Linked DNA regions of Homo sapiens: regions 2, 3, 4, 5, 6 and 7 are each linked to region 1. Evidence: fine-mapped expression QTL. A gene starts in region 1. Each other region holds a variant in brackets. All regions are shown on one strand. Distances are between the middles of the regions.

Region 1 (4,000 bases):
CCCTGGGCTGTCTTCCGAGAGTTCCAGGTGGGAAGAAGAGATGCCCTTGGCCCCTCATGGCTCCTCCGGCCTCGCGGTCCTCCGAGAGCCTGCTCGTTCCCTTCCCATGCCGAAGCTCTATTTCTGGAGCGTCTCATTGGAGATGCACGCCCCCTCCCTGCCAAGCTCCAGGTGCCTGCTTGGCCCTCCCAATCCTGTGTGCTAGTCAGGGACGGTGGGAGGGTGACAGCTGCAGGGAGGGGCGGCAAGAGACAGCGCTGGTGCCTGAGCCAGGAGGATTGGGGCGGAGGGAGCCCTGGGGACGCAGGGACGGGCTAATAATATTGAAAACCACTTCTGCTGCAGCCACCTGTAGAGGCTTCCCCACCCAGAGCATCATCCTGTGCGTCTCCCAGGGGCTCCCCAGCCTGTGATGAGTGGGTGACCCCCATCTCCCCTGGGGCAGCTGCAGAGGCCTCTGCCCAAGCAGCTTATGGGGCTTCCTCTCAGCATCCTGGGGGAGGAGCTGCTTCTCCCCTTAAGAACTAGATGTGTGTGTGTCTGTTTGGAGTGATGAGGACCGACCCCCACACCCCTCCAGCGTTCTGCGGGTGCCGACCACACTGCCCCCGGCAAAGGCCAGGCTGACTTAACCTTCCTGGTAGGCCTCTGTAGGGCTGGGCTCCCAGAAGTTTTCCCCTTAAGCTGCCTGGGGATGGGGTGGGGTGGAGACAGCTCCGGTATCTGAAATGTCACTATCTGGGGTACCGGGCCCCCTGGGTGGGCCCCACTGCTTCCCTTTCCCTGGGTTCAGGAAGGGGCTTCAGCCCCACTGCCCTGGACCCCCCTGGCCTGACTCCCCTCCTGTCCTTCCCTGCTCCAGGGTCGCTTGGCCCAAAGAGGTCTGTGGGGAAGCTGCCATGGCTCCCACAGAATCAGCCCACAGGAGACAGGCATGGGGCCCCCAATCTCTTCACTGCCCTTGGGCGAGGGGGTCTTCCTTAGAGGGAATTTCGTCTCTAAACGGTCATTTCTCAGGCCTCTTGACCCGACTTCCCACCATTTCTAGGTGATGATGCAAACACGATGGGCTTTCCAGGCCGCGGCTCGGGGTCCCCAGGAGGGGTCCTGGAGGGGAACGCGTGGAGCCCTTGGGGCTTCTCCTGGCTCCAGTTTGTCCTCCGCCCAGGAGGGGCACATGTGGGACTGTCCTGGCCCCACAGCCCCCGTGACTTCGGTCCTCCCGGGTCTCCACCCGCCCCCCTCCATGTGTGGCGGGAACGGCCGCGCTCAGAGGTCAGGGGTGTGGAAAGGGACGAGCGGGGGAAGGTTCGGGAGGAGAGAGGCGCGTCCCGCGGCGCGCAGGACGTTCACCCCGTGGGTCCCGCAGCGGGTCTGGCTGGGGAGGGGCCCGGCCGCCGCTCCCGCCCGCGAAGCCGCGCTTGGAGATCCCGGGCGGGAGGTGATGTCACCCCTGTGGGCTCCCGGGCCCCCCACGGCACCTGGTTTGCGGATCGCCAGGATCCTGCTGAGCCCGGCGCGGGGGGGACGAGGGGGACCTGGGTCTGCGCCGCCGCCTGGAGACCCCCCGAGACCCCCGCGGCCCCTCCTCGCCCAGCGCCGGAGCCCCGCTGCCCCCTTAGCCCGGCCGGGGGCGTCCTGCGGAGGGCGGAGCCTCGAGCCGATTGGTCCCTCCCCGCCCCGCCCCCGCACCAAAGCCCCGCCCCCGCACCAAAGCCCCGCCCCACCACGAAGCCCCACCCCCGCCCCGCCCCCCGCGAAGTTGCTCATCGGTTCCGGGATCCGCAGCTGGGCTCGGCGCGGCCGCTGGGGCCGGGAGGGTTCGGGAGGGTTTTGGGGGCTCCCGCCCCGCCCTCGCCCCTGCCCCGGCCGCCCCGCGCTCCTCCCGGGGACCTGGTTCCCGGCCTCCTCGCCCCTCCGCGCTCGCAACTTCGGCCTCCCCCGGCTCCCGCCCGCTCTCCCTCCTTTGTTGCGCGATGAGGGTCGGGTTTCGGATCTGACCGAGCCGCCGCCGCGGGATGGAGCCGCTCAGCCACCGGGGCCTGCCGCGCCTGTCCTGGATCGACACCCTCTACAGCAGTACGTGTGCCGGGCGGGGGCGGGACCCCAGGATCGGGATCGGGACCCCAGGATGGAGATCGGGACCCCAGGATCGGGATCGGGACCCCAAGATCGGGATCGGGACCCAGGCACCGGGCTGGTCCGGGGAGCGCGGGCGGGGGCGAGATCGGGGTCCGGATCGGGGTCGGGTTGGGAATCGGGATCGGGGTCGGGACCCAGGAGCCGGGCTGGTCTGGGGGGCGCGGGCGGGGGGTCCCCAGAGAGGATTCCTGCGGTCCGGGGGCGGGGACCGTGGGCGGACCGAGCCGAGAGCTGCGTCCCCCCTCCCACCTGTTGTGAACCCGGCCTCCGCGAGCCTCAGGGGAGGGAGGCCCTTCTGGGTGCTGCCCCCGCCCCTGGACCGGCAGCTTCTCTGTCCAGGCTGAAGCCGAAAGGCCGTTTTGGGAGCAGTCGTTGGCACCCGAGTTTGCCACCCCAGGGGCACCGGGTCATGTGTGGTTCAGGGCCCAGGGGTTCGGTGCTGGGGTGGGATCGGGTGGGAGGGGAGACGGGGGGTGCAGATATCCGCGGGGGCCGTTTGGATGCGGGAGCTGAAAATCCCGGGCTCAGCAATCTTTCCTGCCAGCCTCATCACCACCCCCACCCTCATCATCACCACCACCCTCAGAAGAAAAAAAAAACAAACCTTCTCGAGTTCTCCACCCCCTCGCTCCCAAATCTCTCTGGATCATGTGATTGCTCTTGCATGGCCCCGGGGGATGCGTAACTGATCACGGGTAATGGTGTGGGGGGGCTTGGGGCGAACCGAGAGCCGCCCCCCGCCCCCACCACCGCACCTTGCTCCTGCTCCGTTGCTAGAAAGGCACCGCCCCTTCTCCCCACCCTTCCCTGAGACACCTTTCCCGAAAGCTCTCAGGGATTAGGAAGAGGGTCCTCCTGGGCTTACATAGTGGATTTCGCCCTTCCTGGCCCACGTGAGTGGGACCCTCCCACTCTCTCAGCACATCTCCCAGGCAGGAGTTGGGGGAGGCACGTGGGGCCACGTGGAGCCTGGTTCAGCCTGATTCTAGGCACTGGATGCCATGGAACAGGAGCGTTTTCTTTCTTTTTTTTTTTTTTTGAGACGGAGTCTCGGCTCTGTCGCCCAGGCTGGAGTGCAGTGGCGCAATCTCCGCTCATTGCAACCTCTGCCTCCCGGGTTCAAGTGATTCTCCCGCCTCAGCCTCCTGAGTAGCTGGGATTACAGGTACCCACCACCACTCTCGGCTAATTTTTTGTATTTTTAGTAGAGATGGGGTTTCACCATGAGGCCAGGCTGGTCTCAAACTCCTGACCTCAGGTGATCCACCTGCCTCAGCCTCCCAAAGTGCTGGGATTACAGGCGTGAGCCAACAAGGGCATTTGTAAGGGTCATCCCAGCTAGAGTTCCTTGATAAGTCATATGGGGGGGGTGGGGGGAGTAGAGAAGGGTGATGCCTTGAGCCCCAAAGCCTTACTCTGGAGGCTGTGTGGTACCCAACATTCAACCTCTGACCTCAGCATCCCCTTGGGTCCAGGTCATTCCCTGTATCTTCTTCTCCACCCGCCTCCTCCTCCATCCATGTTCCTTCCTCTCCTCCCCCCAGGAGCTGTCCTTGTGATGGTTCATTCTGCTTTGGTTTCTCAACATCAAAGGGGCAAAGCCGGATCCCCTGGGCATAGGTCCTGTGCCAGGTGCCGCCGCTCCATCTGCTCCTTCCCCTGCAGAGGCCAGCGTCGTTGGGTGAAGGTCAGGGCCCATGGCTGTGTGGCATGTGCGTGCACGTGCGTCTGCATGAATGGGGGCACACATCTGTTCGGAGCGCAGATGCAGATCAGCTCCTGACCCGGAGGCAGGATTAGTGGCCCTCTCTTAGCTGTGTGCTTGCAAACAGCCGTCATAACAATGCCTCAGATTCAC
Region 2 (4,000 bases), 130 kb after region 1:
GGGAGGAAGCCAGGTTATGTTTGGCAAAGCAGAAGGCAGAGTCTGGTAAGGAAAATGTTTCTGTGTTTAAGCTTCGAGGAATGTTAAATGCCTGGGAGTTGATATTAAAAGAAACATAAACCTTCCTGCTGCCAGCTGACCTGGGCCTGTGAGCGGACAGTTCAGAGCCAGAGTCCCCTGCAGGCCTTTGAAGTCCCCCAGCACTCAGCATGCCAAGGCCCGGCCCTGGCCCTCCGCTGCAGAACCATCTCACCAGCCTGCCTTTGGTGGGGGAGGCATGCCCCAGGGGCGGGCTGTGGCTTAGAAAGTCTCGCCCCGTGACTGCCCTCAGAGCCACCGTGGATGGCCAGGCTGGGTGACGAGTCCACACGGAGCTGTTCCCACGAACCCGGGCCCCACGGAGCCACGGAACGGTCTGTCCCCACAGCTTGTCTCTGCCTTCACTCCGGCCACACATCTAAGGAAGGGAGCTGGCACTAGCCTCTGGAATGCAGTCTTTCTGCCCGCCAGCAGGCGCTGAGGACATAGTCGGAGGTGGCTTTGAGATAGGGCCCAGCCCTCGGGGATATTCAGGGGGCCTGTAGGAAAGGCAGGAGGAGGAGGGCAGTCTCTGAGGCCCCCACTTCTCTCTAAGCCCCCTCCCAGCAGCCCATCCAGAGAAAGCAAGGGGCCCTACGGCCTAAGCGCAGGCATTTGCTGCTGTGATGAGGCCCCCACTCTGGGTCGCCTGATGGGGCAGTGGGGCAGGAGTCTCAGCGGCGGGGTGGGGTGGGGGAAGCATTTAGTGACAGACAGACGGCAGCATGCGTCACCAATGTGTGTCCAGCACTTGTGCTCCTGGAGGCCGCTTCCCAAATGCCATCTCCTCGTGTGATCCTTGTCGTGATCCTCCAGGGAGAATGACAGTCCCTCCTCCCCATCTTACAGATGAGGACACTGGGGTACTGAGGTTAAGTACCTTGGCCAAGGCATCTCTGCGTATGGTATGTGGGAAAGGCCATGTTCCCTCCTCTGTGCCATGTCCCCACGTCTCAGGCCTTTGTCAACGAATCCCCCAGCCCGGACAGAGGGCCGTGGCATGGCTAATGGCCTGGAGAAGCAGCTGAGGTGCTGCTTTATGGCATAAGGTGAGCGTCCTTTGTCTTGGAGTCCTCTGGGCAGGGGACACTTGTGCCTGGTGCCCCTGGGAGGAAGGAGAGGAGCACGTGCGGGAAAGAGCAGGAGGCCGAGGTGGGCTGATCACGAGGTCAGGAGTTCGAGACCAGCCTGGCCAACATGGCAAAACCCCTTTCCTACTAAAAATACAAAAATTAGCCAGGCGTGGTGGCACGCGCCCATAATCCCAGCACTTTGGGAGGCCGAGGCGGGCGGATTACAAGGTCGGGAGTTCAAGACCCGCCTGGCCAACATGGCGAAACCCTGTTTCTACTAAAAATACAAGAATTAGCTGGGTGTGGGGCCCACGCCTGTAATCCCAGCACTTTGGGAGGCCGAGGCGGGCGGATTAGGAGGTCGGGAGTTTGAGACTCGCCTGGCCAACATGGCGAAACCCCGTCTCTACTAGAAATATAAAAATTAGCCAGGGGTGGTCGTGCGTGCCTGTAATCCCAGCACTTCGGGAGGCCAGGGCGGGGGGATCACCTGAGGTCAGGAGTTCGAAACCAGCCTGGTCAACGTGGTGAAACCCTGTGTCTACTAAAAAAACAAAAATTAGCCAGGCGTGATGG[C/T]GGGCACCTGTAATCCCAGCTACTTGGGAGGCTGAGGGAGGAGAATCACTTGAACCTGGGAGGTGGAGGTTGTAGTGAGCTGAGATTGCTCCATTGCACTCCAGCCTGGACAAGACAGAATGAGATTCTGTCTGGGGAAAAAAAAGAAAAGAAAACAGCAGGAGGGGTACTTAGCATGCGTCTGTGAGGTCCCCAGCCCAGGAGGGGGTCCTGGCCTCCAGGGACCCACTGTCAGATTGGAAAGACGAGTATATTGGTCCATGTTCTCCAGTGAGAAGAATGCTAGATGTCAGCCACAATAGCCGTACACACATAAGCGAGCCCAGGACGAGCCCAGCACGGTGCTAAATGCTTCCATCTGCTGTCTCAGGAGATCTTCCCAGGACCCTGTGGGAGAGGAATATCATCACAGCTAGAAAGATGAGGAAGCTGGGGCTAAGGAGCCCGGACAAGGCCATGTGCCCAGGAGTGGGCCAGGGCGGGCAGCTGGCTGCAGAGCCCATTTCTAGATGTCCTGCTGCCTCCTGCTATAAGAAGACGGAAGATTGTCCTGCTGTAAGAAGACGGAAGATTGTCCTGCTGTAAGAAGACGGAAGATTGTCCTGCTGTAAGAAGACGGAAGATTGTCCTGCTGTAAGAAGACGGAAGATTGTCCTGCTGTAAGAAGATGGAAGATTGTCCTGCTATAAGAAGATGGAAGATTGTCCCGCAGGAATTCAGAGGCAGAAAGGTCACCATGGGCTGGAATTAGGGAGGCTTCAAGGAGGAGGTGGAACGAGAGCGATTTGGAAGCCCTGGGTTTTTTAATTCCAAAAGCAATGTTTGTATGAGAAAGAAAATTGCAGTAGAAGCAAAGAGACTTGAAACCTAATCAGAAACCATCCTTCCTCCGGCTCCTCCGAAGCAGCCAGTTTATTCTGTGCCTTTTCCCTTCTTGAGGTATACACATTTTTATGTAGATTTAATCAGGGCCTGTTTTGTCTGTTTTTCTGTTTTCATGGATTATTATAAACCTCCTTTTCTCTAGAGCTGTATGGAGTCTTCTTAAGCACCTTTTTGGATACTTTGTTAAAAGTACTTTATATTCTTTGTAGAAATCTTGGTATAGAGCGGCCAGCGCAATTGCTATGCTAAGGCTCTGTGTTATTCCAGCAAGGTGCGCAGGCTCCGCTTCCGCAGAAGGGAGTAGGGTGGGAGTTCTGGAGGACAGACCCGCCTGGCAGGGAGGCACGAATGTGAAGGGAGGGTCCCAGGAAAGTCAGGAGCCTCAGCAGGGGTGGCGGGGAGCTGCAAGCAAGGCCAGTAGAAGGAATGAATAAAAGGAGGGGATTCCTGGGGGTTTGGCCGGAAGAGGTATTTTTTTTTTTTTTGAGATGGGGTCTTGCTGTGCTGCCCAGGCTGGAGTGCAATGGCGCAATCTTGGCTCACTGCAACCTCTGCCTCCCAGGTTCACGCCATTCTCCTGTCCCAGCCTCCCGAGTAGCTGGGATTACAGGCGCCCACCACCATGCCCAGCTGATTTTTATTAGTAGTAGTAGAGACAGGGTTTCACCATGTTGACCAGGCTGGTCTCAAACTCCTGAGCTCAGGTGATCTGTCCACCTCAGCCTCCCAAAGTGCTGGGATTACAGGCCTGAGCCACGGCACCCGGCCTGGAATAAATCTTAGAGGGCGTTTAATCCAATCCTGTTTTCCGGAGAGAAGGAAATGGACACCAGCAAGGGTGAGCGAGGCAGCCGCGGTCACAGAGCTTGTTAGTGGGTGAACAAGGGCCCCAGACTCAGGGACCCCATCCAGGTCCGCTTAGCTGGGAGCCCCCCCTCCACCGGCTCTTGCCCCTGCCCCCGGCGTAGTCTGCCCTGGCTCCTGGTCCCAGGGGACTCCACTGTGTTTATCCTACTCTATTTCCAGCCTTGCCGCTCCAGCTGCAACCTACCCGCTAGCTGATTAGCATATTCCCAGGGTCCGGCCCTTCTTGGCGGGCTGGGCCTGAGGAGAGCGCTTTCCCTTGGGGCCCCACAGCTCAGTTTCTGCCAGCGTCCCCAGACTGGAGAAGGGCCTGAGACCAAGAAGCTACTTAAACCTGAGGGGCCCTCTGCACCCCCTGCCCGCCCCCCGGCCCTGCGTCATTCCCTCGCTCACCGCAGGCTGGGGACAGCCCCCACCCCACAGTCCACCTCTGCTCCCTGTGCCTGGGAGGCAGCTCCACTTCCCCACGTGCCTGCCAGGGCAGCCCCTCCCTGGGCACAGCAGCGCTGAAGACCCTGTGGTGG
Region 3 (4,000 bases), 78 kb after region 1:
GCACGTGGGCACCTCTCCTTCACCTTCGTATTCCCAGTGCCTGGCTCCCGGTGGGAATGGGTGAGTGAGTGGTGAGCCTGGTTTTTGATGAGACAAGAGACGCCCTGCAAAGACTGAAGAAACAATGTGAATTTCCTCATGGCTCTAAACTGGGAATTGTGGAGTCTGAGGAAAGCTGGAAAAGATGGGAGATGGAACAGGCCTTCCTTTGGTGGTGACTGAGCAACGGGTCTCCTGTTAGCCAAGTGCACCGAGGCTAATTTCCCATCCGTACGCTCTCCAACGCCTTTGCTCCAATCTCAGCCAAAACTGCAGCGTGAACGGGGCCCAGAGCAGGACTCTTGGGGCTGACTGTTGCCTCTTGAGGGAGGGTCTTCCTGAGTTGTCTTCCCATCAGAACCAGCCTTTCAAGAGTGGACTATGAATGGAAGTCTTGAGGGGAGGATCTTGCAGAAATGGGCGATTACAGGGCTTCCAGGGTCTATGCTCGTGCCAGGGGGGATGAAGCTTGTTTGTGGCTGGGGCTGCAAATCCCTTTCTTCCCCCCATCCTAGTCCAACCAGCTCTACAGTTACAGCTCACGGTGTGGCATTTGCTAAACCCTCAGGCAAAACCTTGGTTGGCAGGGAACAGGAGGGAGTGCTAGCCCCCAGCACAGGGGATGAGTTCCCATTTGTCAAGGCTGGGAAGCAGCAGGAAGACCCCTGAGGGTCTGACCTGGAGGGGCTGGAGCTGGGGGCTGTTCCAGGCTCTGATCTTGTCCCCCGGGGCTACGTGTGCTGGAGGCTGTGCAGGCCTCTGGCAGTCCCGACTCTCGGTGCCTCAGGAAGATGATAACACCTGCCAGGTTTTGAGACTCCGGTGAATTGAACCACAAAGATAGCTAAGCTCAGTTCCTGGAATTTGTGAAGCCGCCAATAAGTAACTATTGCCCTTGCCTGAAGCGTGGGGTCTGTCTTGCTTTTCTAATGCTGCTGAAACAAATCGCCACAAACTTAAGGGCTTAAAACCACACAAATTTATTCTCTTATACAGAAATCTAAAAAGGATCTCGGCCCGGCTCCATGGCTCACACCTGTAATCCCAGCACTTTGGGAGGCCGAGGCGGGCGCATCACCTGAGGTCAGGAGTTTGAGACGAGCCTGGCCAACATGGTGAAACCCCATCTCTACTAAAAATACAAAAATTAGTGGGTGTGATGGTGGACGCCTGTAATCCCAGGTACTCGGGAGGCTGAGGCAGGAGAATCGCTTGAACCTGGGAGGCAGAGGTTGCAGTGAGCTGAGATCATGCCATTGCACTCCAGCCCTGGGCGACAGAGGGAGACTTTGTCTCAATAAGTAAATACATAAATAAATAGATTAATTAAAATAAAAAGGATCTCCAGGGCTGCATTGCTTCTGGAAGCTCTAGGGCAAGCTTTTCCAGCCTGCGGCCATACGGCCCAGGACTGCTTTGAATGTGGCCCGACACAAATTTGTAAACTCTTAAAACATTATATATTTTTCTTTTAGTTCATCTGCTGTCGTTAGTGTTATTGTATTTTATGTGTGGCCCAAGACAGTCGTCTTCTTCCAGTGTGGCTCAGGGGAGCCAAAAGATCGGAAGCCCCTGCTCTAGGGGAGTGAGTTCATTTTATTGCCATTTCCAGCTTCCAAAGGCTCTCTGCATTCCTTAGCTCGTGGCCCCATCCTCTGTCTTCAAACCTACCAGTGTAGCATCTTCCAAGCAGTCCCTCACCACTACCCTGTCTCCCCGGCCCTCTCACTCCCCTTCTGTGGCCACGATGCCTCAGGGAAAGATGGCATTTTAGGCAGCAGGTAAAGAACGAACCGAAAGCTAGAGACCTTTGAAGATGAGGAGGCTGGTTCTCCTGCGTGTGGGGGAGACTGAGCGATGTCCTGGCTGTGGGAAAGACTGGAAGGGTAGGGACGGGCATCCGGGCCACTGCAGGTGGCTCATAAAGGATATGGTGGGCCCCATGTCCCAGTCTAGGGCCGAATCTTTACTTGTTTTTTAAATGTCTTTCCGGCAGGGTGCGGTGGCTCACACCTGTAATCCCAGCACTTTGGGAGGCC[A/G]AGGCGGGCGGATCACGAGGTCAGGAGATCGAGACCATCCTGGCTAACACGGTGAAATCCCGGCTCTACTAAAAATACAAAAAGTTAGCTGGGCGTGGTGGCGGGAGCCTGTAGTCCCAGCTACTCGGGAGGCTGAGGCAGGAGAATGGCGTGAACCCGGGAGGCGGAGCTTGCAGTGAGCCGAGATCGCGCCACTGCACTCTAGCCTGGGCGACAGAGCGAGACTCCGTCTCTAAAAAAAAAAAAAAAAGAAAAAATAAATGTCTTTCCCACTAGAGTCTAAGCCACTTGAGAACAGGGGCCACTGTCTGTTTCCCATGGTATCTATAGGGCCTGGTGGACATTCAGTAAATATTTATTGAATGAATAAATAAATGGACACATAGCCCAGTGGAATCCCCAAGTACTCGCGTTTTGCGGTATTCATACTCGGTCCTTGGCAAGCATCGGGCAAGGTGGCACTCTTAGGAGTTGAATCCAGCTCTGGTGTGTGGGACAGGCAGGAGGAGAGGAAGAGAGGGAGGAAAAGTCGGTTCGAGAACCCAGGTGGAAAATAGATTGAGGGAAGCAAAACGAGATGTTACAGGAGGAATATGGGTGATTGTCTTTTCCTTTTATATTTCTGCATGTTTTGTATATTTTTTATAATAATATCTGACTTTTATCCCCTATGAAAGTGTCGCTTAAAATAAAAGGAAAGGGGAAAGGGGGGCCGGGCGCGGTGGCTCACGCCTGTAATCCCAGCACTTTGGGAGGCTGAGGCGGACGGATCACCTGAGGTCAGGAGTTCTATACCAGCCTGGCCAACATGGTGAAACCCCATCTCTACTAAAAATACAAAAAAAATTAGTCTGGCATAATGGCTGGGCATGGTGGCTCACACCTGTAATCCCAGCACTTTGGGAGGCTGAGGTGGGTGGATCACCTGAGGTCAGGAGTTCTATATCAGCCTGGCCAACATGGTGAAACCCCATCTCTACTAAAAATACAAAAATTATCTGGGCATGGTGGCAGGTGCCTGTAATCCCAGCTACTCGGGAGGCTGAGGCAGGGGAATCACTGGAACCCGGGAGGCGGAGGTTGCAGTGAGCCGAGATTGTGCCACTTTACTTCAGCCTAGGTGACAGAGCGAGACTTCGTCTCAAAAAAAAAATAAAGGTCGGGGGGGAAGGGCAGGGAAGCAGACCGTCCACGCAGGGTTTTGGCCTCCTTGCTCATGAGCTGTTGGCTGTGCTTTGCGTTTGTGCAGGTGGAAGCAGGGAAAGGCCTGGAGATGAGGAAGCTGGTTCTCTCGGGGTTCTTGGCCAGCGAAGAGATCTACATTAACCAGCTGGAAGCCCTGTTGCTGGTGAGTACAGTCCCTGCTCTGGGGCCTTCCGGTCCCCCCGCCCGTGTTGGGTGATGTCATGCTCTGAAGCTGCTTTTGGAGTTGGAGAGGAAAGGGGACCGTACCCGTCCCTCCCTGTGGACAGAGTCTGCAGCTGGTCTGCTTCTGGCTGGGCATCGGGCAGCCCGGGTCATTGCCAGAAAGGGCCTGTGCCTCTCAGCTCCAGCTCTCAAAAGGCAGGAGAAGCACACCCGGCTTAGAGATGGCAAACACACCTGTCACCCACGACCCTGGCATAGGGCATCGTGAACCCATCATGGTGCTCTGCCTGCCTGGGCGGGGGCCGAGCGCCTTCTCCACGCTGTGCTCTGGGCAGTCATTCCCAATCAATCCAGTTAAGAAGTCTCTGCCGTCTTGTGTCCAAGTCCTTCTACCTCCCTGGGTGAGGGAACCGTTAGTGCCATCCTGAGGCCCCGTGTCAGGAAATATGAGGTGGGAGGCTGTGTTCTTTTTTTTTTTTTTTTTTTTTTTAAGACGGAGCTTTGCTCTTGTCACCCAGGCTGGAGTGCAGTGGTGCGATCTCGGCTCACTGCAA
Region 4 (4,000 bases), 65 kb after region 1:
ACTCAGGCTCAGGGATAACGCTGGGAGGAACTCAGGCTCAGGGATAACGCTGGGAGGAACTGCAGCCTCTTCTTCCCTTTCTTGGTCTCTTCAGAAGGCTTAGGGCTTGGGATTCGAGGTTGCTGGTAGGTGCGTGAAGAGGCGGCATGGCAGCCAGGAACTCCTGAGATGGTGCCTGCTCCACTCCCTCCTGACTGCTCCGGACCTGGGTTGTGTGGTTCAGGGACTCCTCGAGTTTCAGCCTCCGCCCCCCAGCAGCCGGCCCCTGCATTTCTCCCCTTCCTGGATCTTGGGTCCCTGCTGCAAAGAGAAGGACACGAGCTGGACCCTCCCGTGTGCCAGGTGCTGTGCTAGGAGCCCAGGGGCTGCCCTGCCACCCAAGTCCTCCAGCCATGGGGCTGCCCCCGTTTAGTAGATGAAGACACTGAGGCTCAGGGTGGCTCCTGGGCTTGTCCCAGTTGGGAAGGAGGTAAGTCGGAAGTAGGTAGACTAGTGCCTTGGTTGTGACCCTGGGTCCCGTCATCGCTGGCTCCCGTCCTCTCTGGCCCTCCTACATTCACACCTGGCTGGGATCTTGCTCACCTCTGCATACTGTTAATCTTCCCTGATGAACCACACCTGGCTGGCCTGGCTCATCCCACAGCTCTCACGCCCTGTCTGGGATCTCCGTCTTCTGGCTAGCTAGCAGCCCTAGAGTTGATGCCGTAATTACCCCCATTCTATAGATGAGGAAACGGAGGCACAGGGAGACTAGATGACATGCCCAGGTCACACAGTTGGCAAGAGGCAGAGCTGGGGCTCACATCCAGAGTGCAGGGGAGTTTTCTTTCTGTTTTAGTTTATTTGTTTCACTGTATAAACAGTGTTGTGTACCGGCTTCTCCTCAACATTAGCTTTATTTTATTTTATGTAATTTATTTATTTGAGATGGCGTCTCCCTCTGTCACCCAGGCTGGAGTCCAGTGGCGCAATCTCGGCTCATTGCAGCCTCCGCCTCCTGGGTTCAAGTGATTCTCCTGCCTCAGCCTCCCAAGTAGCTGGGATTACAGGCCACCACATCCGGCTAATTTTGTATTTTTAGTAGAGATGGGGTTTCATCATGTTGGCCAGGCTGGTCTTGAACTCCCAACCTCAGGTGATCCGCCCGCCTCGGCCTCCCAAAGTGCTGGGATTACAGGCGTGAGCCACCTCGCCCAGCCTATGTATTTTATTTTTTTGAGACAGAGTCTCCTTCTGTCACCCAGGCTGGAGTGCAGTGGTGTGATCTCGGCTCACTGCAGCTTCCGCCTCCCGGGGTTCAAGTGATTCTTCTGCCTCAGCCTCCCTAGTAGCGGGGATTACAGGCACCCGCCAGTACGCCTGGCTAATTTTTTGTATTTTTAGTAGAGACGGGGTTTCACCACGTTGGCCAGGCTGGTCTTGATCTCCTGACCTCAGGTGATCTGCCCGCCTCGGCCTCCCAAAGTGCTGGGATTACAGGCGTGAGCCACTGCATCTGGCCAACATTAGCTTTATGTAGTTGAACTATGTATATGATTTTGGAGTGACCTGTACTAGAACAGAGAGGAGGCAGAGGGAGGAGCAAGGTGATCTGGAAGGTGACGAATCCAGTCCCATCTGTGGCTGCAGTTAGTGGCTGCAACTGCCCTGGCACTTGCCCTTTGGTGTCAGTTCCCATTGGCTGAAGAGCTACTGAGCTTCATACAGTCTGGAGGTGGGGCTTGAGTTTCTGCCAGGAAAGCTGGGAGAGCCAGGGAGAAGCCAAGAGGCGGGAGAAAGTGCTTCAAGCCGAGGACCTGCCGTTGTTAAAGGCCTGGAAGTGAGAACGTGCCAGGCCCTTTGAGAGGTTACTGTCAACAGTGAGATGGGTGAGTCATCAGCTGGGGCCCCA[C/T]GGCTCTTGTTTGGGCTGGCTTGGTGGCTTCCTGCTGGGCATAGAGTGAGCAGTGTTTTAGAAAGAGTCATCTGATGTCAGCAGGAGGGATGCAGGATGAATGTCCTGTCACACCTGTCCTGAAATCCTCCAGCACCTTCCCTTCGCCTATGGGGCCCCCCTTCCCTTTGCACAGCTGTCAAGGCCTTGTGTGACCTGACCCCTGGACCCCCTGCCTACCTCTGTGGCCTCAGGACCAACTCCGTGCTAGAATTGTGAACTCTCACGAGAGAGAGATTTTGTCGGTTTTGTAACAAAACTTGCTCATTGCAGTCTCTGGTGCCGAGAACTGTGCCTGGCACACAGTAGGTGCTCAGTAAATATTAGCTGAATGAATGCATGAACCAGCCAGACTAAACTCATGTCATTGTGCCTCACATAGTCTCTCTCCTGTCTGTTCCCCAGCCCCACCAGCATCTCTAACCACTGCTTTTTTTTTTTGAGACGGAGTCTCTCTCTGTCACCCAGGCTGGAGTGCAGTGGCGCGATCTCGGCTCACTGCAACCTCCGCCTCCTGGGTTCAAGCGATTCTCCTGCCTCAGCCTCCTGAGTAGCTGGGACTACAGGCGTCCACCACCACGCCTAGCTAATTTTTGTATTTTTAGTAGAGACGGGGTTTCACCGTGTTAGCCAGGATGGTCTCAAACTCCTGACCTCAGGTGATCTGCCTGCCTCAGCCTCCCAAAGTGCTGGGATTACAGGTGTGAGCCACTGCGCCCGGCCATAATTTTTTTTTTTTTTTTTGAGACAGAGTCTTGCTCTGTCGCCCAGACTAGAGTGCAGTGGTGTGATCTCAGCTCACTGCAACCACTGCCTCCCGGATTCAAGGAATTCTTGTGCCTCATCCTCCAGAGTAGCTGGGATTACAGGCCTGTGCCACCCCTCCTGGTTAATTTTTGTATTTTTAGTAGAGACAGGGTTTTACCACGTAGACCAGGCTGGTCACGAACTCCTGAACTCAAGTGATCTACCTGCCTCGGCCTCCCAAAGTGCGGGATTAAAGGCGTGAGCCACTGCGCCCAGCCTAATTTTTTTTTTTTTTTTGAGACAGGGTCTTTCTCTGTGGCCCAGTCTGGAACACAGTAGCACAAACACAGTTCATTGCAGCCTCAATATCCTGACCCAAGCAATCCTCCTGCCTCAGCCTCCCAAGAAGCCGGGACCACAAGAGCATGCCACCACACTCAGCTAATTATTTTTTAAAATTTTTATAGAGATGAGGTCTTGCCATGTTGCCCAGCTGGTCTCAAACTCCTGGGCTTGAGTGATCCTCCTGCCTCGGCCTCCCGAACTGTTGGGATTTCAGGCGTAAGCCACTGCACCCGGCCTATATGTATAGTTTATTCGTGGACACAAATAAGGAAAAATGTATAACTAACTCTTAGAGGCTCCCTCTGTCAGAGGGAACCAGAGGAGACTTTCTCTTTCTTTATTATGTGTGTCTACAGAGTTAGAATTGTTAGTGATGTAACAGGAAAATAAAGAAGTTAAAATAGAAGTGCCACGATTGGGAACGTAGAGTGGGCTCTGAGGGCACCAGCGGGCACATCTGACGCAGCCAACGGGGAGTCACGGGAGGCTCCCTGGAGGAGGTGACGTTTAAAGTCGAATCTAAAAATAAGCAGTGGGCCAGGTGCCGTGTCTCACACCTGTAATCCCAGCCCTTTGGGAGGCCGAGGCGGGTGGATCACCTGAGGTCAGGGGTTCGAGACCAGCCTGGCCAACATGATGAAACCCCATCTCTACTAAAAATACAAAAATTAGCCGGGCCTGGTGGCGGGTTCCTGTAATCCCAGCTACTTGGGAGGCTGAGGCGAAAGAATGGGTTGAACCGAGGAGGCGGAGGTTGCAGTGAGCTGAGATCATGCCACTGCACTCCAGCCTGGGTGACAGAGCGAGACTCCGTCTCAAAAAAAAAAAAAAAAAAAAAAAAAATCGCAATAGGTGTTTCCATGTTATCCCTTCCAGAAAAGTGGCACCTCAGCTGCAGAGTTCTGACACTGCTCCCCTCCCCAGTACGGCCTTGCCCCTCCCTTGACACTGCCTTGGGAGTCAGTCACCAGGTCAATC
Region 5 (4,000 bases), 130 kb after region 1:
GTGCCCTGGCCAGGACGAGGTTGGGTGGGCCATTGTGGATTCTGCACTGCTCTGCCCAGGATGGGGCCCTGCCAGCACGCCTTTAGACATGGGGCATTCCCCTGGAGGCCAGAAACCAGCTCCTCTTGGCAGGGAGGTCACCCCTGGCCTTTGTCTCCAAAGTCCTCTTTCTCAAGCCCTCCCTGAAGCTGTCTGAAACCTAGGGGCCGGGCGCGGTGGCTCACCCCTGTAATCCCAGCACTTTGGGAGGCCCAGGCGGGCGGATCACGAGGTCAGGAGTTCGAGACCATCCGGGCCAACATGGTGAAACCCCGTCTCTACTAAAAATACTAAAATTAGCGTGGGCATGGCGGTGGACGCCTGTAGTCCCAGCTACTTGGGAGGCTGAGGCCAGAGAATCCCTTGAACCCGGGAGGCGGAGGTTGCTGTGAGCTGAGATCATGGCATTGCACTCCACCCTGGGCGACAGAGCGAGAATCCGTCTCAAAAAAAAAAAAAAGAAACCGAGTGCGACAAACACGTGGACTCCAACTTCATATCTGAGGGCGACAAACACGTGGACTCCAACTTCATATCTGCCCATGACAAGCTGTGTGACCTTGGGCAAGTTTCTTAACCTCTCTGGGCCTCCACTAAAAGGCAGTCACGCTTGTGAATTTTGACCCGAGAGCAGGCTGGGATATGATCGTGTGTGTGCAACGCTGGTGTGCTGCCACGCTCATCGCTTTTTCTCCCCTTCCCCCTTGTGGGTTCCTCATACTAAATCTGTTTTTAGTGTCTCACAAAGTAGGATTGCACTTTTTAATTTTTAAAAAATTTTTTTTTAGAGACAGGTTCTCCCCATGTTGGCCAGGCTGGTCTTGAACTCCTGGGCTCAAGCCATCCTCCCACCTCAGCCTCCCAAAGTGCTGAGATTACAGGCGTGAGCTGCTGCGCCCGGCCTGGTTGCGCTTTTTATCTACCTGTTATCCACACGGGAATCTGTGAGTCAGTTAGACAGCTAATAGTTTCTACCCATTTGCCAGAGGAGGTAACCGAGTCACAGAGAGGAGAAAAGACTTAACATCACAGAGGATCAGAAACCCTGACTCTCTCCCTCTCCACCTGCCCCTCCCACTCCCTGCTCTTCACTGGCAGGTGGGGTCTGCCCTCACCCCTCCCTGCAGCGCCCCACACAGAGGTGACTCCCCGGGCCGTTAGAGCAGCCTTTCCCAGGAAGCCTCCCTGAGTTCCTGGGGGCAAACTGGCCTCCCTTCTTTGTCCCTTCTTTGTGCCCACATCCCCTCAGGTTCCTTGTGCCCCCATCCCCTCAGGTTCCTTGTGCCCCCATCCCCTGAGGTTCCTTGTGCCCCCATCCCCTCAGGTTCCTTGTGCCCCCATCCCCTGAGGTTCCTTGTGCCCACATCCCCTGAGGTTCCTTGTGCCCCCATCCCCTCAGGTTCCTTGTGCCCCCATCCCCTCAGGTTCTTTGTGCCCCCGTCCCCTCAGGTTCTTTGTGCCCCCATCCCCTGAGGTTCCTTGTATCCCCATCCCTTTGAGGTTCCTTGTGCCCCCATCCCCTGAGGTTCCTTGTGCCCCCATCCTGCTCAGGGCAAGCTGGTTATGGCACCTGTCATGCTGTTTTGTCACTTAACAATTTGCGTCTCCCACTGTGAGTTCTCTGAGGGCGGGAACCAGGTCTCCTTTACCCTGGGATGCATGGGAGCTCAGAAATGTGGAATGAAGTCGTTAATTTACACAGCACCTACCGTGCACCTGGAGAAGGTGAGAACATGGCTGGCGTGTGGACGTACTCACATGTGCAAAGCCTGTGGCGTGTTCAGAGCCTCTCAGTCTCACGGTCCGCTCTGAGCCTCCGGCATCCCGCCGAGGTCACGGAAACCATCCCTGTTTTACACACGAGGACGCCGAGGCTCGGAGGGGCTCAAGGTTCCTTCCTGGAGTCACACAGTAGCAGGTGGTGCAGCAGAATCCACGTCTTCCGGCACCAGAGCCGGAGCTCTAACCTTTTGGGCACTTCTCGATGTCTGGCCGGGAACACCACACGGTCCCTCAGGCTGCTTGTTACCGTGGAAGCTTCCTGAACTCTCTCCAGACCCA[C/T]AGACCTCCCTTCTTGGGGGCTGCCGCTGAGGAGCTTCTGGCTAGTGAGCTCTGAAGCACTGTCCCACCCATGTCTGGACCAGGCGCCACCACTCCATGTCCCCAGATGCCGCCCCTCCCTCTCCTGCTTCCCGTTGGCCGGGAGGTCCTCGCCTCAGGGAGCCGACCCGTGGCCTCCCAGCCTGGGCGGGTGTCAGAGCCGGCTGAGCTGCTCCAAAATCTCTCTTTACCCCCAGATTATCCTCACTCCCTTCGCCGCCGCCACCCCTGACCCACTCATATGTCTGTTCTCACTCAGAGGTGAGGCCCTGTGTCTTCAGCCGTGGTAAACTCAGGACCTCTGGACAGGCAGGCCCAGGGTGTAGGCACCATGACTTTTCCTGCTGTGCAGACAGGAACCTGGGGAGAGAAGGGAGGTGATCTGTGCAGAGCTGGGGTGTGGACCCAGATGGTCTGACTCCGGAACCCTCGCTCTGACCCTGTGAGCCGTCCCCAGCTCCTTCCGGAACCCTCCCTCTGACCCTGTGAACCCTCCCCCAGCCCGTTCCGGAACCCTCCCTCTGACCCTGTGAGCCCTCCCCCAGCCCCTTCTCGAACCCTCCCTCTGACCCTGTGAACCCTCCCCCAGCCCCTTCCGGAACCCTCCCTCTGACCCTGTGAACCCTCCCCCAGCCCCTTCCGGAACCCTCCCTCTGACCCTGTGAGCCCTCCCCCAGCCCCTTCCGGAACCCTCCCTCTGACCCTGTGACCCCTCCCCCAGCCCCTTCCGGAACCCTCCCTCTGACCCTGTGACCCCTCCCCCAGCCCCTTCCGGAACCCTCCCTCTGACCCTGTGACCCCTCCCCCAGCCCCTTCCGGAACCCTCCCTCTGACCCTGTGAACCCTCCCCCAGCCCCTTCCGGAACCCTCCCTCTGACCCTGTGAGCCCTCCCCCAGCCCCTTCCGGAACCCTCGCTCTGACCCTGTGACCCCTCCCCCAGCCCCTTCCGGAACCCTCCCTCTGACCCTGTGAGCCCTCCCCCAGCCCCTTCCTGAACCCTCCCTCTGACCCTGTGACCCCTCCCCCAGCCCCTTCCGGAACCCTCCCTCTGACCCTGTGAACCCTCCCCCAGCCCCTTCCGGAACCCTCCCTCTGACCCTGTGAACCCTCCCCCAGCCCCTTCCGGAACCCTCCCTCTGACCCTGTGAGCCGTCCCCCAGCCCCTTCCGGAACCCTCCCTCTGACCCTGTGAACCCTCCCCCAGCCCCTTCCGGAACCCTCCCTCTGACCCTGTGACCCCTCCCCCAGCCCCTTCCGGAACCCTCCCTCTGACCCTGTGACCCCTCCCCCAGCCCCTTCCGGAACCCTCCCTCTGACCCTGTGACCCCTCCCCCAGCCCCTTCCGGCACCCTCCCTCTGACCCTGTGAACCCTCCCCCAGCCCCTTCCGGAACCCTCCCTCTGACCCTGTGAGCCCTCCCCCAGCCCCTTCCGGAACCCTCCCTCTGACCCTGTGAACCCTCCCCCAGCCCCTTCCGGAACCCTCCCTCTGACCCTGTGAGCCCTCCCCCAGCCCCTTCCGGAACCCTCCCTCTGACCCTGTGAGCCCTCCCCAGCCCCTCGAGGAGGGGCTCACACCGAGATCAATCCATGATGACAGCACTTCATGGCCCGTCTCAAACACACAGGCCCACTCCCTGGTCTGGCCCAGGCTGGGGTGCTCAGGGCCTCTGTGTTGTTCACCTGCAAATCCCCAGCCCCGTTCTGTGTGTTCTGAGGCCCACCTGGGTCTTCTTTCTGTTGCTCCAGCTGGAGGCTTCTTGGGGTAGCTGCACTGTCCTTTCTGCAGGAAAGCTGGTTTTTTTGGTTTTTTTTTTTTTGAGAAAGAGTCACTTGGTCGCCCAGGCTGGAGTGCAGTGGT
Region 6 (4,000 bases), 70 kb after region 1:
GTCTGTGTCTGATGGAGGGGCACTCTCATTACTCACTGGAATTTCCAGCCACCGGGGACAGGGTGGAGTAGAGAGGCCCTGGATACTCAGGGAGTCACTTGTGTGGGGTTCAGGGATTTTGGGAAGAAGTGGGCGTCAGTCTCACCATGCCGTGTAGAGGTGTGGGGAACGGGGACGAGGATATCCTGGCAGACTTCCAAGGGCACCTCATGTCCTCTTGAGTGGAGGAAGGAACACAGCAGGGGCCTGTGGGGTTTTAGGCCCTTCTTCGTGTCACCTGCAGGTCTGACTCATGTGGGCAGCCCATGCCATGCACTTGGAGCCCGCCGGGCGGGAGACAGAAGAACCCGTGGTACCAGGCCCTGAGCTGGCATACTTGTGCCCTGGGGAATGCCAGGCCTGGTCGTTCCCAAGCCCTCGCCACAGCCTCACCCGCCCGCACCAAATGAGGAATTGTGGCTGAAAGGGCCCTTCAGATGCGCCCTGGCTATTTATAACCCACCCAGGCAGGGACAGGGGAAAACCAGGGGCTGGAAGGAGATGGGTGGGGTGGGGGTGTGCCTCTGTTGAACCCTGGTGGCACAGTTCCCTGATCAAAGGCTGTTAGCCCTGGGGCCCCTCAAGGGCTCACCCCGCAATCCCCTGCTCTGTATTTCAGCTCTGCAACAGGATGGAGCCTCTCTCCAGGGAGGGCAGCTTCTCTGCTGCCAATGGAATTGCATGAGCCCCACCTAGAGCCCAGAGCTTCTGAAGAATTCTGGGGGGAGTGGGGGGCTGTGGCCTGAACTCGGGCCACAGGTGTGGTTCATTTAGACGGCACCATGTTGTTTTAAAATGTTAATTATTTGCCATCGTTTTAAAATCAGGAGCATTCCTGTTAATAAGCCAGATTTTAGCTTATTTTGAACAGAGATCAGGCAGCCATGAGCTTGCGTTTCCTCCAGCAGCCATCGGCTGGAGTGAGTGGTGGTTTCACCCTGCCCTACCTGGCTCGCTTCACCGGCTGGCCTCACCCGCAGGCCTCACCCGCACCCTCATGGGTGCCGTTTGCAACCTTTGCTCCATCGTTGGGTTGTAAAAGAGCTTTTCCCAGGGCCTCCTCTGGACTCCTCCTCCCATGGAAGGAGGTGTATGTGCATCTGGGAACTAGGGCCAGGGGGACCAGAATGTGGCCTCACTCCCTGCACAGTTGGGGGTTCTGCAACCATTGGAGAAGCCAGGGGAAGCTGGCTGGGAGTGGGCAGGGCCGGAGATGGTGCCTGTCCTGGGTTCTGTGTGCACTCCCCTTGCAGGATGGCTCCCTGCGGTGGGGTGGCTGGGGGGGCTGCTTGGAGGAGGTGGGGGTGCTGGTCTCAGCAGTGCCTGTGAGTAGGTGGGAGGCTGCTCAGAGGAGGTGGGGGTCCTGGTCTCTGCAGCGCCTGTGAGTAGGGGGGCTGGTCTGTGAGTGGGGGGGCTGCTCAGAGGAGGTGGGGGTGCTGGTGTCAGTAGCGTCCGTGAGTGGGGGGACTGCTCGGAGGAGGGGGGCTGCTTGGAGGAGGGGGATCCTGGTCCCTGTGAGTGGGACGCCCACCGCTCCTGTGCAGGACAGTGGTGGCGCCGCGCTCCTGCCTGGGGGCAGGTCAGGCCTGTCTGTTGCAAAGCCTGACTCCTCCAGCGGCGGCGGGACGCGGCTGTGGCTTCTGGGCGGGCCGGGGCCTCCCCTCCGGAAGGGGGCTCCGGCGCATGGGGACTCCGGGGTGGCTCTGGGGGTCGCCCCTGCTCGCCGGGCTCCTGGCTCGGCCGCGCGCGGGGAATGAAGATGCGTCTGGGAAGCGGCCTCCCCGC[T/C]CCACCCCACCCCGGCCCGGCCGCGGCCTCCTCGCTCCTCCTCCGCCGCAGAAGCCTCCGCCAGCCGCGGCCCCGCAACCCCAGAGGACGGGCGGCTCCACCTCGCGACGCGCGTTTCCTGTGTGTTCGGAGCGAGCGCGAGCCCGAGCCCCGGAGCCCGGGAAGGGCGGGCCCTGCGGGGCCGGGCGGGACACGGAGGAGGGCGCTGGGCTGCTGTGCGGCGGGTTCGCCTCCGCCACGGGCCGGGCACGGCGTCAGGGGCTGCCCGGGCCTTGCTCCCCCTTTCGCCGGGCGAGGACGCGCGAGGCGGCGGCGGCGGCGGCGGAGCGGGCTGGACTAGGTCCGGGATGCAGTCCCGGGTCGGGAGCCCCAGGCCGGGCGCGCGGGTGTAGACCTGCCCCCCCTCCCGCCCGCCTCCTCCCTCCTCCCTCCTCCCGCCGCCGCTGCGTGGACCCCGCTTCCTGTCTGCCCTCCGCGGGCTCCGGCTGCCATGGAGGAGGAAGAGGAGGCGATAGGCTTGCTGGACAAGGTTCTGGAGGACGAAGATGTGTTTCTCCTGGAGGAGTGCGAGCTGGGAACCCCGACCAGCCCCGGCTCAGGGTCCCCCTTCCTGGTGGCTGTGAAGGTGGGAGCGTGACACGCCCTGGGCGCTGGGGGGGGCCGGGCCGGCGCTGCCGAAGGTGCGCGGGAGAAATGGCTGATGCGGGCGCAGAGCGCGCGGCCGGGTGGAAGCCCTCGGCGGAGGGTCCCGGCCCCGGCAGCTGTTCCCGGGGGAGAGGGGCGGGCCTGCCTCCCCGACCGGTGTCCTCGGGGCAGTGGTGGCCGCCCCCTCCAGGCCAGCCCAGCTCAGGGCTCCGGCGGCTGTGCCAGGAGTCACCTGGCGCGCCTGTCAGCCCGAGCCTCGCCGCCTCCCTGGAGCGGGTGGGCAGGAATCCCCCGTTTCCACGGCAACCGCAAGAGAGGGGCCACCCTCTTCCCAGCCAGGAGACAGGGACTTGGTGTCTCCGAGCTGAGGCAAGAGGGTGTTTGCAAAGGGCAAGAGCCAGAGGTCACTGAGCTTCCTTGAAGGAAAAGCACTGGGTCAGCTGAAGGGGGGAGGGAACAGCTGGCTTGGAGGCTGCAGCCAGGTGGGCAGGTGCCCTTCCCGAGGCGGGACAGGCAGGGAGCATCTGCTGGGCCCTGGCCCACCCGCTCTGGGGCTGACGGCGTTCTCTGCAGCAGTGACCCGTCCTGTAGGAGAGGTTGGCTCCCGGTGGAACTGGAGGGCAGTGGTGGCCAGAATCCCTTGAGGAGCGGGGCGGCCCCGGAACCACGCCGGCTCTGTGAGTCTGGCCCGGCACACCACAGCGGTCTTCCTTTTTCTCTCCTGGACACACCTCTCAGAGCTTCCACCTCAGCCTTTTGCTCAGCTGCTCTCTGGTTCTGTGTCGAGAAGGGAGGCCCAGTGAGGATGCGTTTCGGGGAGTTTGCAGACTGCTAGGCGAGGCTGCCTAACCGAGTGCCCATCGGCGGGGCCTAGAAGGCATGTGCAGCCAGCATTGCTGGGGACGGGAGGCTGTCCCTGAACCTCTCTGGGCCTCCCTGCCCCTCACAGAAGATGGGGATCACAGTCCTGCCCCACCCACTCTACAGTGTGGCTCTGAGGAGGAGCCAATGGAGGTAAAAATAGATGCAGAACCACGGGAGATGGCTGATGTGTGAGTATGGGTGGAGCGGTGGCTGCAGGCCTGGGTGGGGAGTGGAGCTGTAGGGAGGCTGGCAGTGGCTGGCACCCCACCCTGTCTTCTCTGATCTGGTGCTGGCGTAGGGCCGTGGGGGTAAGTCACGTCTCCCCGTGGGCTCAGGGAGGCCTCTGCACTTAGGGTCTGACCAGCCTCCCCACTAGGAACAGGGTGGGAAAGTCTGCTCCTGAGCCAGGAGTCAGGCTGGGAGTAGCAATGCTGGGATGGGAGGTGTGTGGCCCTCATGGGCCTCCTCTGGGAAGCCCCCAGCACAGATGTGGGCCCACTCAGAGGCTGCCTCCTGGACCTCCCCTTCTGCTGGACCCCGGCGTATGCCTCAGCTAAGCCCGTATTTCATTCTGCTCAGATGCTCAGAACTCTAGACATTTGCCTCCGCAATTATATCCCATTCTCCTGGAGGACCAGGACCATGTCATATTCATTGCTGAACACTG
Region 7 (4,000 bases), 90 kb after region 1:
AAGGGCTAACGATCGGCCCCGGGGCCTGCCGACACTCTGGTTTGTTTACCCCCGACCTCTGCTCTTTCTTCCTCTGTTTCTCCCAGCCCATGAAACCCCTGAAGGCCACCGCCACCACCTCCCAGCCCGTGCTCACCATCCAGCAGATCGAGACCATCTTCTACAAGATCCAGGACATCTATGAGATCCACAAGGAGTTCTATGACAACCTGTGCCCCAAGGTGCAACAGTGGGACAGCCAGGTCACCATGGGCCACCTCTTCCAGAAGCTGGTGAGTCTGCCAGGGATGGAGGGTCCTCACGCAGGGCCTCAGTGGAGCCCATAGTGTTGCAGGAGCCTCAGGAGAGGACCGGGCAGCCCTCTCGGACTCCTTGAAGGCCTGAGACCTCTCCGAGTCCGGGAGGAAGGCCTGGGCCTGTGTGTTATGGGGTGCCTGGGGCCGGGGCCTTGACTCTAGGCCTCCCCTGGTGCAGCCCTGGGAGCTTCTGGGGTGGTGGAGACAGGCTGTGTGGATAGGTCCTTCCAGGGGTGGTGGAGATGGGCTGTGTGGATGGGCACTTCTGTGGGAGCACCATCTCTCTCCCGGAGGGTGCTCCTTCTCCCTCCCGGAGGGTGCTCCGTCTTTCCCGGACGGTGCTCCCTCTCTCTCCCGGAGGGTGCTCTGAGGAACCAGCCCTGGAATGAAGGCTTCTTGCTGGGCTTCAGTCTCCTGTCCCTCAGTGAACAGAGGGGCACATGCCGGGTTAGGGGCATGAGGACTGCTCCCCTGAGACCTCGGGTCTGTAAAAGGAAGCAGTTGGGCACACTGGCCGATGATCCTCTCCTGAGGTCCCAAGAGCAGGAAGCACTGAAGCCCAGCCCTGCTCACCACTGCAGGGTCGGGAGCGGCAGGAGTGGGTGGGTTAACATGCAGACCTCGTGTTGGGAAACGTTCACAGAAGTCTTCTGGTTCCCTGTGCTTCTGTGACACCCTCTCCCCCAGCTCTGCCCCATCTCTGGCTGTGTCCCCTGGAGGACCCCCAGGTCAGACTCATGGAGCTCCCTCCCCACCTCTGCTACGTAACGTCTGACCGCCCAGCAGGCAAGAGGGAGACTGGGAGTCCAGGCCGCGGTTCTTCTCTGGGTGTGAGTGGCCAGAGGACCTTCTCCTCCTTCCTGCCCTGTTCTCTGGGTGTGAGAGGCTGGAGGCCTCCTCCCCTCCCCTGCCGTGTTCTGGCTGAATGGACAGGGCTCTGCCTTTCTCACGCTGGAGAAGACTCTCCCTCTCCTGCCTGGACACTCCTAGGACCTCTAGCTGAGTGTGTTCAGAGCTGAGCTCCCTGCCTCCGGCGTCACCTGCTCCGCTTCCTGTCTTTACCTCACCGAGTGCTTCAGACTCTTTCTGGCTGCACCCCCTCCCCCACCTGTCCTGTGGACTCCACTTTTTGGCCGTTGCTCACAGCCGCCTTTTCCTCTTCTTGGCCACCCATGGCCCTCACCTGGACAGCTGCGTATCCTCCTGTGTGGCTCCTGCCTCCAGGCCCACTCACCTCCCACCCCCACCTCTCCTTAGAGGGGAGAGAGTCACTGAAACCTCGACGGCCCCTTCAGCGGATCCCCACGGCCCTCGGATGAAGGTCAGGCTCCGAGGAATGGCTCGAGAGACCCTTTGCACACTGACCCGTGTCCAGCCCCAGCCTTGGCAGCTTCCTCCCCGCACCTCTGTGCTCCTGACACTGGACTTTCTGTTCTCAGTTCCCAGGGCAGGCACTTTCTTAACTCTTGGTACTTGAGGCCCCGTGTGCCTGAAACGTCCTTCCCCCTCTCGTCTGGCCTCCCCTGGTCAGTTCCCAGCTTAGAAGGGACCTCCTCCAAGAAGGCTTTCCAAGTCGCCAAATGCAGGCCTTGTGCCAGTCCTCGTAGTGAGCACTAGTAACTGCCTGACTCCCCCAAACCACAAGTTCCAGGAGGACGGACTGCATTTCCTTTTTTTGTTGAGACGGAGTCTCACTCCTGTCGCCCAGGCTGGAGTGCAGTGGCGTGATCTCGGCTCACTGCAACCTCCTCCTCGCGGGTTCAAGTGATTCTCCTGCCTCAGCATCCCGAGTAGCTGGGATTACAGGCGCCCACCATCACACCCGGCTAATTTTTGTATTTTTAGTAGAGACGGGGTTTCGCCATGTCGGCCAGGCTGGTCTCGAACTCCTGACCTCAGGTGATCCGCCC[G/A]CCTCGGCCTCCCGAAGTGCTGGGATTACAGGCGTGAGCCACCGCGCCCGGCCTGCATTTCCTTCTTCTTAGACTCCCAGAACCAGCCCAGTGGTCACTGCTTGAATGAGTGAATGCACCGTGACCTTGACCACTGGGCCTCGGGAGAACTCGGAAGGGCATGGAGGGAGACGTTGCAGGGCCTGAGATTTCTGTCCTGAGAGTCCTGTTTCTCCAGCACAGCTTCTAGAGCCGTGTCACAAAGTGGGCTTGAATCCCAGCGCTGCCAGATTAAACCTGCAACTGGGCAACTTACCCAACCGCTCTGAATCAGCTTCCTCATCTGTAAAAAACAGGATAGTAACAGTATTTACCTCATTGGGTGATTTTGAGGAGTTAATATCTGAAAACTGCATGGGGCTGAGTGTGGTGGCTGACGCCTGTAATCCCAGCACTTTGGGAGGCTGAGGCTGGAAGATCACTTGAGGCTTAGAGTTCAAGACCAGCCTGGGCAACATAGCAAGACCCTATCTCTACAAAGAAATAGAATAGGCCTGACTGAGCGTGGTGGCTCACGCCTGTAATCCCAGCACTTTGGGAGGCCGGGGTGGGTGGATCGTGAGGTCAGGAGTTCGAGACCAGCCTGGCCTACATGGTGGAACCCCATCTCTACTAAAAATACAAAAAAATTAGCAGGGTGTGGTGGAATGCACCTGTAGTCCCAGCTACTCAGGGGGCTGAGGCGGGAGAATCGCTTGAACCTGGGAGGCAGAGGTTGCAGTGAGCCAAAACCACACCATTGCACTCCAGCCTGGATGACAGACTGAGACTCTGTCTCAAAAAAAAAAAAAAAAAAAAATGGCTGGGCACAGTGGCTCACGCTTATAATCCCAGCAACACTTTGGGAGGCCAAGGTGGGCGGATCACCTGAGGTCAGGAGTTCAAGACCAGCTTGGCCAACATGGTGAAACCCCGTTTCTACTAAAAATACAAAAATTAGCCGGGCATGATAACACGCACCTGTGATCCCAGCTACTACTCGGGAGGCTGAGGTGGGAGAATCGCTTGAACTCGGGAGGCAGAGGTTGTAGTGAGCCGAGATCGTGCCACTCCACTCCAGCCTGGGCGACAAGAGCAAGACTCTGTCTCAAAAAAAGAAATAGAATACAATAAAGTAAAAGAAAAAGTGCTTGGAACAGGGCCTGGAACATCATAAATTAATAAGTACTCAATAACTGGTCATTATCATCAGTGCCATTATTATTATTATTATTATTATTATTATTATTATTATTATTAAATTGGGAAGAGGCACCCTGGAAGGTATCCTTCCAAGGGAATGCCACACTCTGGTTCTAGCATACCCCCCCCTGCTCCCTCCGGTTCAGGGATGGTGAACACCTGTCATCACTGCCTGCTCACCTGAGCTGAGTGGCCTGGGGGGCATCCTCTCCTCATCCCTCAGGAGGGTAGAGGAGAGCAAACCTAGGGTTGCTGGAAACGCTGTCACAGTTTATCTTTGTCACTTGGACCTGGCTGTCCCCGGTTCTGGTCTTGGCTCCACAGGCCTGGCCGTGAATCTGCTACCCACCACTTTCCCTCCCCAGCATCGTGAACCGATGCCTGAGGCCCCTGGGGCTGCAGATTTGGGAGGGCCCGGGGGGAGCCGGGTCAGGTCTGGCATCCGGAGGTGGTTTATTTTCAGCCGAAGACTCTGGGTATTTGATTATTCGTTACTGAGAGAAGGGAATTAGCGTCTCTGCTGTTTGTTTTATGAGATCACTCCAGTGCCAGGCTGCTGTTTCCAGGCAACCT

Alleles and levels. Alleles are on the strand shown, and positions count from the first base shown. SD is a standard deviation of normalised expression in the study named. Not every link is listed here.
For the expression in cerebellar hemisphere of the gene that starts at base 1,765 in region 1, allele T in region 2 goes with a lower level than allele C (small effect, 0.26 SD a copy in GTEx).

What was found. PIP is the estimated chance that this variant, and not a neighbour inherited with it, causes the effect.
Region 2: its variant is fine-mapped to the expression of ABR in cerebellar hemisphere (GTEx, PIP above 0.99).
Region 3: its variant is fine-mapped to the expression of ABR in whole blood (INTERVAL, PIP above 0.99).
Region 4: its variant is fine-mapped to the expression of ABR in blood mononuclear cells (TOPMed, PIP above 0.99). The same link has a PIP of 0.9 or more in whole blood.
Region 5: its variant is fine-mapped to the expression of ABR in whole blood (INTERVAL, PIP above 0.99).
Region 6: its variant is fine-mapped to the expression of ABR in whole blood (TOPMed, PIP above 0.99).
Region 7: its variant is fine-mapped to the expression of ABR in esophagus mucosa (GTEx, PIP above 0.99).

The regions. Positions count from the first base shown.
Region 1 is chr17:1,177,746-1,181,745 of GRCh38, reverse strand. It overlaps ABR (ABR activator of RhoGEF and GTPase), which reads left to right and starts at 1,765. Exons shown (of 23, transcript NM_021962.5): 1 at 1,765-2,079. The coding sequence starts at 2,019. ABR-AS1 (ABR antisense RNA 1) reads right to left here and starts at 119. Exons shown (of 3, transcript NR_187271.1): 1 at 1-119. RefSeq lists an enhancer at 958-1,724.
Region 2 is chr17:1,043,748-1,047,747 of GRCh38, reverse strand. All of the region lies in intron 16 of ABR (ABR activator of RhoGEF and GTPase), which reads left to right. Among named protein-coding and RNA genes, the nearest start is that of MIR3183, 23 kb to the right of the region's middle. The variant C/T (reference allele first, on the strand shown) is at 1,728.
Region 3 is chr17:1,100,063-1,104,062 of GRCh38, reverse strand. It overlaps ABR (ABR activator of RhoGEF and GTPase), which reads left to right. Exons shown (of 23, transcript NM_021962.5): 3 at 3,328-3,426. Among named protein-coding and RNA genes, the nearest start is that of ABR, 78 kb to the left of the region's middle. The variant A/G (reference allele first, on the strand shown) is at 2,079.
Region 4 is chr17:1,113,144-1,117,143 of GRCh38, reverse strand. All of the region lies in intron 2 of ABR (ABR activator of RhoGEF and GTPase), which reads left to right. Among named protein-coding and RNA genes, the nearest start is that of ABR, 65 kb to the left of the region's middle. RefSeq lists an enhancer at 1,772-2,415. The variant C/T (reference allele first, on the strand shown) is at 1,892.
Region 5 is chr17:1,052,031-1,056,030 of GRCh38, reverse strand. All of the region lies in intron 14 of ABR (ABR activator of RhoGEF and GTPase), which reads left to right. Among named protein-coding and RNA genes, the nearest start is that of MIR3183, 31 kb to the right of the region's middle. The variant C/T (reference allele first, on the strand shown) is at 2,101.
Region 6 is chr17:1,107,383-1,111,382 of GRCh38, reverse strand. The region is part of intron 2 of ABR (ABR activator of RhoGEF and GTPase); the gene reads left to right. Among named protein-coding and RNA genes, the nearest start is that of ABR, 71 kb to the left of the region's middle. The variant T/C (reference allele first, on the strand shown) is at 1,825.
Region 7 is chr17:1,087,937-1,091,936 of GRCh38, reverse strand. ABR (ABR activator of RhoGEF and GTPase) reads left to right here. Exons shown (of 23, transcript NM_021962.5): 4 at 87-272. Among named protein-coding and RNA genes, the nearest start is that of MIR3183, 67 kb to the right of the region's middle. The variant G/A (reference allele first, on the strand shown) is at 2,207.